Regions from separate parts of the Homo sapiens genome. Here region 1 is linked to region 2. The links come from fine-mapping of genetic effects on gene expression. A gene starts in region 2. The other region holds a variant in brackets. All regions are shown on one strand. Distances are between the middles of the regions. Region 1 overlaps MRTFA (myocardin related transcription factor A). Region 2 holds the start of MRTFA (myocardin related transcription factor A).

Region 1 (5,377 bases), 170 kb before region 2:
GTTTCTCCACAGTATGGACTGGGAGGTTTGGAGTGTATTGTAAAGCACAGCATTGCCCTACCTGATCACATTGCTGATACAATGAACAAGCCACCTAACACTTTAAGAACTGGGGGTAGAGAGTCCTTCACTGGAGGGCCACAGAAGACAGCATAATGTAGGTAAATAGTCTGGCAGTGAACTGCAGTAAACAAAAAGATTAATTTGGGACTTAAGCTCCCTGGGCTGATGTTTAGGATAGAAATAGACCCCAAGCCGGGCAAGGTGGCTCACACCTGTAATCCCAGCACTTTGGGAGGGTTAGGCAGGAGGACCGCTTGAGCCCAGGAGTTCAAGACCAGTCTGAGCAACATAGGTAGACTCCATCTCTATAAAAAGTAAAAATAATTAGCCAGGCATGATGGCTCACACCTACAGTCCCAGGGCTATTCAGGAGGCTGAGGTGGGAAGATCTGCTTGAAAGCCAGAGAGGTGGACGCTGCAGTGAGCCATGATCATGCCATTGCACTTTAGCCTGGATGACAGAGCAAGAACTTGTCTCAAAAAAAAAAAAAAAAAAAAAAAAAAAGTTAAAAGAAATAGACCCCAGGCTTCTTACACTTGTTATAAGGTTCTCTTAGAAATGGACCCTATCACTATTGTGGTAGGTCCATTCTGACTTGCTTAAAAGCCTTCAATGGCTTCCCATTGCACTTAAAACCAAATCCAGCTGGGCATGGTGATGCACACCAGTAGTCCCTGCCACTAAGGAGCCTGAGGCAGAAGGATTGCTTGAGCCCAGGAGGTTGAGTTCAGCCTGGGCAACATAGCAAGACCCCATCTCTTAAAAATTAAAATGAAGGCCGGACACAGTGGCTCAGGCTGTAATCCCAGCACTTTGGGAGGCTGAGGCAGGAGGATCACGAGGCCAAGAGATCGAGACCAACCTGGCTCATACGGTGAAACCCCGTCTCTACTAAAAATACAAAAAAAAAAAAAAAAAAAAATTAGCCAGGCGCTGTGGTGGGCACCTGTAGTCCCAGCTATTTGGGAGGCTGAGGCAGGAGAATGGCGTGAACCCGGGAGGCGGAGCTTGCAGTGAGCCCAGATTATGCCACTGCACTCCAGCCTGGGCAACAGAGCAAGACTCCGTCTTAAAAAAAAAAATTAAAATTAAAAGCCAAATCCACCTCCTCCATGTGGGTGATAATGCCCTGGCTCTAGCCCTGCCCACCTTACCCATCTTCACTTGCCCCTTCTCTCTCTCCACCATGCCCCAGCCACACTGGCTTACTTGATGATCTCCAAACACACCAACTTCTGGCCTGCACCAGGCCCAGACACTTGCTTTTTCTTCTCTCTGAGCCCTCTTCCTGCTTTCTGAATGGCCAGCTTCATCTGATCCTTTAGATCTCAGCTCAAATCTTTCCTCTTCAGTGAGGCCTTTCTTGAACATCTTATTCGAAGTGACTCCATCTTATTCCTATTACTTATTAACACACCAATCAGTTAATTTACTTGATAGTACTTACCAGGCTCTGAACTTACCAACTGCATTTCAAGGTGATCCCTGCTCTGAAATTTCTTGTCTACTACTAGTCTTGCCCTTCTAAATATAAATCACCTGAGAGCAAGAGCTGGATTTATCTTGCTGCATCAACTATCACATATTAGGTACTCAAAGATTTTGAATGAATGAATGAATGAATGAATGAGAGCTAGGAAAATATGGTAGCAGTCAGCCAGCAGACAATGAGTTAAAGTGAAAAACATCAGTTCTCCCACCATGAAGCCAGAAGTTGTATGATTGTTTTTTGACTTACAGTGTATCCAAGTAGTGATAACATACAAACAGAAAAGAGAGCCTATGTTCTCTGCTGATGATTTAAAAAAGAAAGGTCCGAAAGATCAAAACCTCACCAGCTCCAGTTTCAGCTCCGTTTATAATGCTGTTGGTATTAAAGGCAAATTTCCTTACTTCTAACAGATTCCAAGGTTTGGTTTCATTTTTCCCCTAAGGGATGGACTTCTGCACCCACTGAGCCCGGTGCCGTGATAGCGCCATCAACGACTCTACTCAGCCATGCTCACGCCCAGGCCAGCCTTAGAGTATCTCAGGATCTCACTCTACATAAAACTGTGGTTGATTCAAAATACCAGAAAAGAGGTTTCTCTTCCTAAGAACCAGAACATGAAGGCAAAGCATATGGGAGAAGTGGTTCTTCCTCACAATACACCAGGCTCAAGATCTGCCCCTCCTATAAAGGGAAGTATAACAGAGTGAAAACTCTTTTAAAGGTGCAATTCCAAAGTAAAGGAAAATTCAGTGGCACCCTTTACACCTAATTTAAACCAGG[T/C]TTGACCCTTTAAACACAGTTTGTTTCACTGAACTTGATCAATTAGTTATCTTAACTATTTAGTGATTGAGCTCTAAACTTGGAAAGTCATGAGAAAGAAGAGAGTGGAAAATAAAACGCATCATCCTTGTTTTATGTTAGATGCTTCCCATGGCATACTCGGTGAACACAGCCATGTCCTAAAAGCAATCTACCAAATGCTGAGAGAGAGAGGCACTTACGCGGCATGATCCCTTGGCTCACCAGTTCTTCCCGGGTCCGGCGCTGCTGGAGTTTCAACTGTAGCACTGCAGGGCAGCAGAGAGAGAGGAGAGATGAGGGGTCAGTTGGGTATTCCACCTCAAAAAACACATTTTCAAACGCAAAAAAAGTCTAAAAACAGAAGGATGTAGTGTGAAAGAAGGGTCCCCTTGAAGTGCAACTGTCTGTAATTGCAGAAGTGGCCTGATACAGCAGAGTTTCCGTATTCTGCTGTGGGCGGTGAGAGGAAGTTGCGAAGGGTCTTGCAGGGCGATAACAATCCACAAAGCATCAGAGTCTTGCCTTTTGCTCAAAACCTCCAAAACACTGAGTCCTCCTCCTAAAACTTTTTTAAAAACACCTCTTCCAAACTCAAAATATCCTAACGAGGACCACCACCCAGCAAAAAAAGCTTTCCAGATGCTCTACGCTTAACAAATGTTTACCACCATAAGTATAGTGAATGAAAGAACTACTCACACAGATCAGGAAGTACTATTTGTAAACTCTTTTTCTTTTGTATCTAAAAATTATAGCCATTTCACCAAGCAATGCCTTTTTCTAGCCTAGAAAATATTTTACCGTTAATATGCCTCTGTTTTTCTTCTTTCTCTTCACTTAGAGCCTTTTCTGTTGAGGTGAAACAATTCAGCTAGATGACTCAAAGCACATCCGGGCTAGGGGAGACTGATGGGTGTTTCTCTTATTTTCACTCTGGCAATACTGCTTAATGAAAAAACTTAATAGGGATTTTTTTTAAGTTAAAAATCAACTATCAGCCAGGCACAGTGGCTCATGCCTACATGTAATCCCAGCACTTTGGAAGACCGAGGCGGGCGGATCACAAGGTCAGGAGTTCGAGACCAGCCTGGCCAAGACAGTGAAACCCCATCTATACTAAAAATACAAAAATTAGTCGGGTGTGGTGGTGCGCGCCTGTAGTCCCAGCTACTCAGGAGGCTGAGGCAGGAGAATTGCTTGAACCTGGGAGGCGGAGGTTGCAGTGAGCCGAGATCACACTACTCTCTCTCACTCCAGCCTGGGTAACGAGAGTGAGATGCTGTCTCAGGAAAAAAAAAAAAAAAAAAAAAAACAACTATCTTTCTTTCAAAAGCCAGTTAAACCTAAACGGTGTTACAACTACAAACTACACAGAATGACAATGGCACAGCTGTCATTCAGAGACTAAATGAGAAACTGCAGAGGTTGCAGTGAGCTGAGATCATGCCACTGCACTCCAGCCTGGGCAACAGAGCAAGACCCCGTCTAAAAAAAAAAAAGAAAGAAAAAAAAGAAAATGTTCAGAGGAGGAGGGTTAGGAGGATCCCACGGGCCAAGGAAAGCCTCCTTACATAATTAAGTCTTCAGGTGTAGGGGCCTTCCAAGTCACATCTGAGAGGAACCAGAATCTACTGGGAATCATCTTAATATCTGCCTTTTTCTATCCACAGAGTAGCTTTTAGGGAGGCGTCCAAGAATCGCAGAACCATAACCATGCGCCTGCCTACATCTCAAATTCAGTAGATCCAAAGCCAAACTTGTTTTCCTCCCAAAAACCTAATCCCCTTCCCATCCTTCTTACTTCTTTAATGATATCACTATCTTTCCCAGTATTTTTTAAATGTCTGGGCCAACTTCAACTCTACCTCCTCACACTCACACTCCCCTCTTATCAATTTTACCCTGCCATGTTTTCCCATGCTGCAGTGGTAGCTCCCTGGCTGTGTCCTTGCCTGTAGTGTCTCTCTCCCATTTCAAGTTATCTTAATCAAGCCTGGCCAGTTACTCTTCCTCAAGTACCGTGAATTTTTTCCTACCTCTTTTATTCACTTCACCTGGAAATGCCTACCCTGTTCATCTGAACTTCCCCACTCACTCCACAGCATTCAGTTACTCTAGGCCTCCTGTGAGCTACCTTTTATATGTTAGGGAAAAGTATAATATTTTGCCTTGTGTAATAGTAGCCCTTGAACATCTTACTTCTCCTACCAGTTTATAAGTTCCTGGAGAGAAGAGAATATCCCTTACTGATATATGTCCCCCATAGCACTTAATACATAGTAGGCATTCAACAATGGTTTCTTGTACTGAACTGGATCTCAAAAGGATGTTACAAACAGTCTGAGAAACTGAACCAAGAGGCTATTATTATTTTACAAATTACCATTGTTAAGAACAAAGCCTTGGAGAACTAAATCGATAAAAACAGCAGGAGCTACAATAATAGCTGACACTTATGACGCACGTACTCTGTGCCAGACACTGTTTTACATTCTTTTATATTTTAACTTACTCTTCCTAACAGCCATATGAAGATACATTTTGGTGTTTTATTTTTTGAGACAAGGTCTCACTCTGTCACCCAGGCTGGAGTGCAGTGGCATGATCTCAGCTCACCAAGGCCTTGACGTCCCTGGCTCAACAGATCCTCCCACCTCAGCCTCTGGAGTAGCTGGAACTATAGGTGCATGACACCATGCCCGGTAATTTTTTAATTTTTTTTTTTGTAGATACAGGGTTTCACCATGTTGCCCAGGTTGGTCTTGAACTCCTGGGCTGAAGTGATCTGTCCGTCTCAGCCTCCCAAAAGTGCTGAGATTACAGGTGTGAGGCACTATGCCTGGCCAAGATAGGTATTATTAATCCTATTTTACCGAGAAGCAAAGTGAGGCCCAGCAGGTTTAAGTAATACACCTAAGGCTATCCCACTAATAAGAGGTAGAACAGGATTTGGAGACAAGCATTCTGATTCCAAAACCTGGGCTCCTTACTTTGCCTCTCTAGGATCTTCTGAAAGCCTG
Region 2 (5,377 bases):
GTCTGTTGAATGAATAAATGAAGTCATCCCTTAAGTAGTACTTGTAATTACTAACGGGTGACCCAAACTTTATGGTTTTGCCCTTTATAGGCTGAGATTCTATTTCATACTCTTTTTAATCACTCCCTAATAGCATCTGGCAGAGTACTAAGGACATGGAAACTCTCCAATAAATACTTTTGGGTGATGGGATACATATTACTCTTCCACCTCTCTTGATTTGACTCTAAATAACTTATTCAAGTGGATGTGACTTTTGGAAGCCTTCTTAAAAACGGGCTCTTCTTAATAGTTATTGGCCAAAAACTGAAACAAACACTAGAGCTAAACTACAGATATTTTTTTCTTTGCAGGTGTTTTTAAAGAACGCAGTAATGGATTGCTTCTTTCTAAATCATTTCAATAAGAAACAGTAACATAAAGCCCTTTGGTTCGCTATGAAAAATGCAAACGACATTAAGCAAAACTTAGTTTAATAACTTCCAGCCAAAGGTTCCCCACCCTGCAGTCATAGGGCTGTGGGCCAGCTGGCTGTACCACCTCACCCCCGGGAGATGACTGCTTTTCAACAGTAAAACTGCGTAAGTGACATTTGGAGTTTTGGGGGTCTTCTGAAGTAAAACATGTAGGTCTAACTTCTTACTGACAATAAGTCTTAACGTTACAGGCTTCGGCTTGATGTAGAAAGGACCCTGAAAAGATCTCAAAAACTTGCAACTCGGGGACATTCCAGACGTCTTATGAGTTTAAAACTATGTAAAAACATACGAAGCATGGGGTAATTCCATTATTATATTTAAGTGATGTATTCCACATTCCTGTATATACACACACTTCATGCCAAACAGAGGCTGGCAAGCAAGTTAACCATTCAACTGCCCTTTCGTTATGCTGCATAACAGGGAGACAACAGAGAGAAATCTTGACAATGCCAAGCTGGGCTAGTGCTTAAAGGCACACAGGCAAACCAGGCATTCTCAACATCCCAAAAGCAAACATTTCTTGGGCCCTTACTATGGGCCAAGCACTGTGTCAAACGCTTCACGTGAATTATTTCATTCGACACTTACAACAAACAACCGTATGCGATTGGTGCTATTATCCTCATTTTTCAGACGAGGAAACCAAGGCACAAGATTACACAGCTAGCAAGTGGCAGGTTTGGGAGTCGACTCAAAAGGTCCAGCCCTAGGCACTATGGAGTATCAAAGGTACCCGAAGCGGGGAGGGTGGACTGCATCAGCGTCCTGACAGACGCTTTCTTAGGAGGTAAAGTTCTTGGCCATCAAGTTTCAGATTTGCAGAGCCCTGTACACCTGGCAGCATTCAGGTTTGCTATACTGGCACCAACAAGTCCAGCTGAGCCTCCTTGCCTGGGAATCCCAAGGACTGCACTTGGATCCTGAAGGTCTGCACAAGACCCCAGAGAAAGCGGCCGACACCCCGTCCCTGCAATCAAAACACATCCCGGGAGAAGCGAGGGCGAGGACCTCCGTGCCTCCCCGCCCCGCGCAGCACAGCCCTGCCAGGCAGTGCACAGGTGCACGACCGCGCCCGCCCGCCCGGCCCGGCCCGGGTCCCAGCCCCGGCACAGTGACCGCCGCTCTGCGACTCCGGCCCCGAGGGCAGGGGCAGAAGGCCGGCAAGAAGAGGGCAGGGGACGCGAGGGCCGCCTCGCCCGACCCCCCGAGGACGCGCGCAGCAGGGTCGGGGGGGAAAAAGGATGCTCCAGGCGGGGCGAGGCCGCGGTGGGGGAGGGGTCCCCAACCCGGACTCTCACTCACCGCCTCGCGCGGCTCCCGGCCGGGTTCCGCGGCTCGCCCCACTCCGGCTCTAGCCGCCCGCGTCTCCTCTCGAGGCTCACTGTCCAGCCCGGGCGCACGGAGCTGAGAAGTCGCCGCCAGCGGAGGGCGTGTGGCCAGCGGCAACCAAGAGGGTGGGAAAGATGGGACCGTCGCTCTCGCCGCCGCGGCCACCACAGACACTGCCGCCGCCGGCTCCTCTCAGCCACGGAAGCTGCGGGCCCGCCCACCACGCCCGCCTCCCGTCCTGAAGACTGTCCGCTGGAGAAGTGACGGCGGCGCTAGCCAATCAGAGGCCTGATCGGGGTCGTGATCGGCGGACTAAAGGGCGGGCGGAGAAGGAAGCGGCATGAAGAAGGCGAAAACGGCGGCCTGACTTCCTGTGACTGACGGCACGGCGCAGCCAATGGGCAACGGGGAGATGACCTCATCTCTGAGGAAAGTCTGGAACTGGCTGAGCTGCGGCGAGGGGGTTGGCGACGAGCCGGGGGCGGAGCTCTGGGCCTTAAAGAGGCCGCAGCCCTGTGGTCACCCTGTGAAGGGAAGGGCGGTGGACCCTGCCGGATCTTGCGAAGTTGCCAAGGGGTCAATGCCCAGGCGCGAGTAATTACTGCATTAATCCCAGACCCCATCCCGATTCTTGTCGGGGACTGAAGGGTCTCCGCCTGGGGCTCCGAAGTCGATCATTTCACATTCACGCTTCCCAAAACGAGACACAATAAATTCCGCTCTGGCCTGGAGCCTTGAATTCCCGTTACGGTCCCGCCCCGCCGAGGCCCGTCGCCTTGTTTCTCTGAGTCAGTTTCCCCAACGGTGAAAGGGAGGACGCTGACACCTGCCTGCCCCTCCCTATCTGCCGAGGCCGTGGAGATCAGCAGCAGCGAAAGCGCTCTGGGCTTAGAAGAGGAAAAGGGCTGCGTGAGCCCAAGAGCTTGCATCGGAAGGCTCCAGGAAGAGCATCTGCAAAAAAGAGGATTCCACGGGATGACCCCCGACAACTCTTGGAATTCTAAAATCCTATACCCTTGCCCGCACCCATTCGTGTAGTGAAGGGGCGCGCGTTAGGCGCAGAGGCCACACGCTCCGCAAGTGAACCCGGGCACCTCTCTGAACCTATTCCGGGCTGAGGGCGGGGAGCGGGTGGCTGCCCGATTTAAAAACATGTATATGTATGTGTATGTGTATGTGTATGTGTATGTGTATGTGTATGTGTATATGTATATGTATATGTATATGTATATGTATATGTATATGTATTATGAGTGAAGTCCATGACTGCAACAGGGAGAAAGGAGAAAGGCGAAAGGGGAGAGAGCAACAAGGTAAGCCAGGCCCACTGTGATGACAGCTGCGGTCATGCAGGCCCTTCGTATCCGCCTTCCTCCCCAGCAATGGGAGAGAGCCCAGAAAAGGAGAAATAACCCCAACTCGATGGGGTGGAAAAGGGGGAAGCGCTTTCCGGAAGGCTTCCGGGATGGGGTCACCAGAGTCAGAGGAAGGAGTAACAGTAGATAGAAGAAGAAGTGGTCAGGGGCGTTCTTCTAGGTTTGGGGCGGACCCGCGTGAAGATGCAAAGACTGAAAAGGGGCGGCTCACTTTACATTCCAAGGTAAATTCTCACTATGACCCCCTTTTCCCCATCAAAGGCTTCTGGGACTGCCCATGGGTGAACTCAGAGGGAGGGTAGGAGAGGGTGCTGCTCTATCCAATGGCGGCAAAAGTCAAAGTGGCCTTGGGTATTCCCAATTACTCACTATAAATCAGCTTCCAATGCCGGTCGCAGAATCTTGGAGTTAGACGGGATCCTCGTGGGCTCTTAGTCACACACACCTTCCCCAAGGCAAAAATTCTTGCACAAAATACCTGATAAAATTATTTATTCGATAAATATTTTTTGAGTAAGAACACTGAGGGGGTAAGCTAGATGAGATACAGTCACTACCCTGGGGGTGCTTACACCAAACTGGAGGATGCTAAGGCACGTACTGCGGTGACTGCAATGCCAGGCCGGTATCCCAGGTGACTAAAACAGGATGCAGGCCGGGTGCGGTGGCTCACGCCTATAATCCCAGCACTTTGGGAGGTCGAGGCGGGCGGATCACGAGGTCAGGAGACCAAGACCATCTTGGCCAACACGGTGAAACCCCGTCTCTACTAAAAAACAGAAAAAATTAGCTGGGCGTGGTGGCGGGCGCCTGTAGTCCCAGCTACTCGGGAGGCTGAGGCAGGAGAATGGCGGAACCTGGGAGGCAGAGCTTGCAGTGAGCTGAGATCGCGCCACTGCACTCCAGCCTGGGCGACAGAGTGAGACTCCATCTCAAAACAAAAAACAAAAACAGGATGCAGTCCGGGCGCGGTGACTCACGCCTGTAATCCCAGCGCTTTGGGAGGCCGAGGCGGGCGGATCACGAGGTCAGGAGATCAAGACCATCCTGGCTAACACGGTGAAACCCCGTCTCTACTAAAAACAGAAAAAATTAGCTGGGCGTGGTGGCGGGCGCCTGTCAAGTCCCAGCTACTCGGGAGGCTGAGGCAGGAGAATGGCATGAACCCGGGAGGCGGAGCTTGCAGTGAGCCGAGATGGCGCCACTGCACACCAGCCTGGGCGACAGAGCGAGACTCCGTATTTAAAAAAAAAAAAAAAAAAGAGGATGCAGAAGTGCGCCTCGGAGGAGAAAGTACCCCCACTGGAATTATTGGGGTGGGGCAGATTTCCCCAAAACATGACCAAGGTGGGGCATTCCAGATAGTACCCACCCAGACACAGCCCTCCTTAAAAAGCCCAGGTAATGAGGAGGCACAAGTGTATTTTATTAGTCACAGGAAAAGAGATCTGCCCATTCATGGCAGAGACTGCAGGCAACCTCACCGTCTCACAAATATCTCTATACTTTTTCTGGACAACTTAAATTGTATACGTTTTATATACTATATATAGACACATATATATTTTGTGTATATATAAAGGGTTAGGCTGGATGTGGTGGCTCACACCTGTAATCCCAGCACTTTGGGTGGCCGAGACCAGAGGATCACTTGAGGTCAGGAGTTCAAGACCAGCCTGGCCAACATGGTGAAACCCCGTCTCTACTAAAAATACAAAAATGAACCGGGCGTGGTGATGCTCACCTGTAATCCCAGCTACTCGGGAGGCTGAGGCAGGAGAATTGCTTGAACCTGGGAGGCGGAGATTGCAGTGAGCCGAGATCCCACCACTGCACTCCAGCCTGGGTGACAGAGTAAGAGAGACTCTGTCTCAAAGAAAAAAAAAGCCAGGCGCGGTGGCTCACGCCTGTAATCCCAGCACTTTGGGAGGCCAAGGCGGGCAGATCACGAGGTCAGGAGATTGAGACCATCCTGGCTAACACGGTGAAACCCCGTCTCTACTATAAATACAAAAAATTAGCCGGGTGTGGTAGCGGGCGCCTGTAGTCCCAGCTACTCAGGAGGCTGAGGTGGGAAAATGGCGTGAACCCTGGAGGTGGAGCTTGCAGTGAGCCGAGATCGTGCCACTGCACTCCAGGCTGGGCGACAGAGTGAGACTCCGTCTCAAAAAAAAAAAAAAAAAGGGTTTA

Evidence for each region. PIP is the estimated chance that this variant, and not a neighbour inherited with it, causes the effect.
Region 1: its variant is the best candidate, but not a certain one, in a credible set for the expression of MRTFA in whole blood (TOPMed, PIP 0.88).

Annotation. Positions count from the first base shown.
Region 1 is chr22:40,460,664-40,466,040 of GRCh38, forward strand. It overlaps MRTFA (myocardin related transcription factor A), which reads right to left. Exons shown (of 15, transcript NM_020831.6): 4 at 2,558-2,623. Among named protein-coding and RNA genes, the nearest start is that of MRTFA-AS1, 58 kb to the right of the region's middle. RefSeq lists an enhancer at 2,886-2,995. The variant T/C (reference allele first, on the strand shown) is at 2,337.
Region 2 is chr22:40,634,694-40,640,070 of GRCh38, forward strand. It overlaps MRTFA (myocardin related transcription factor A), which reads right to left and starts at 2,026. Exons shown (of 15, transcript NM_020831.6): 1 at 1,785-2,026. RefSeq lists a silencer at 1,481-1,790 and enhancers at 2,051-2,360, 3,100-4,299.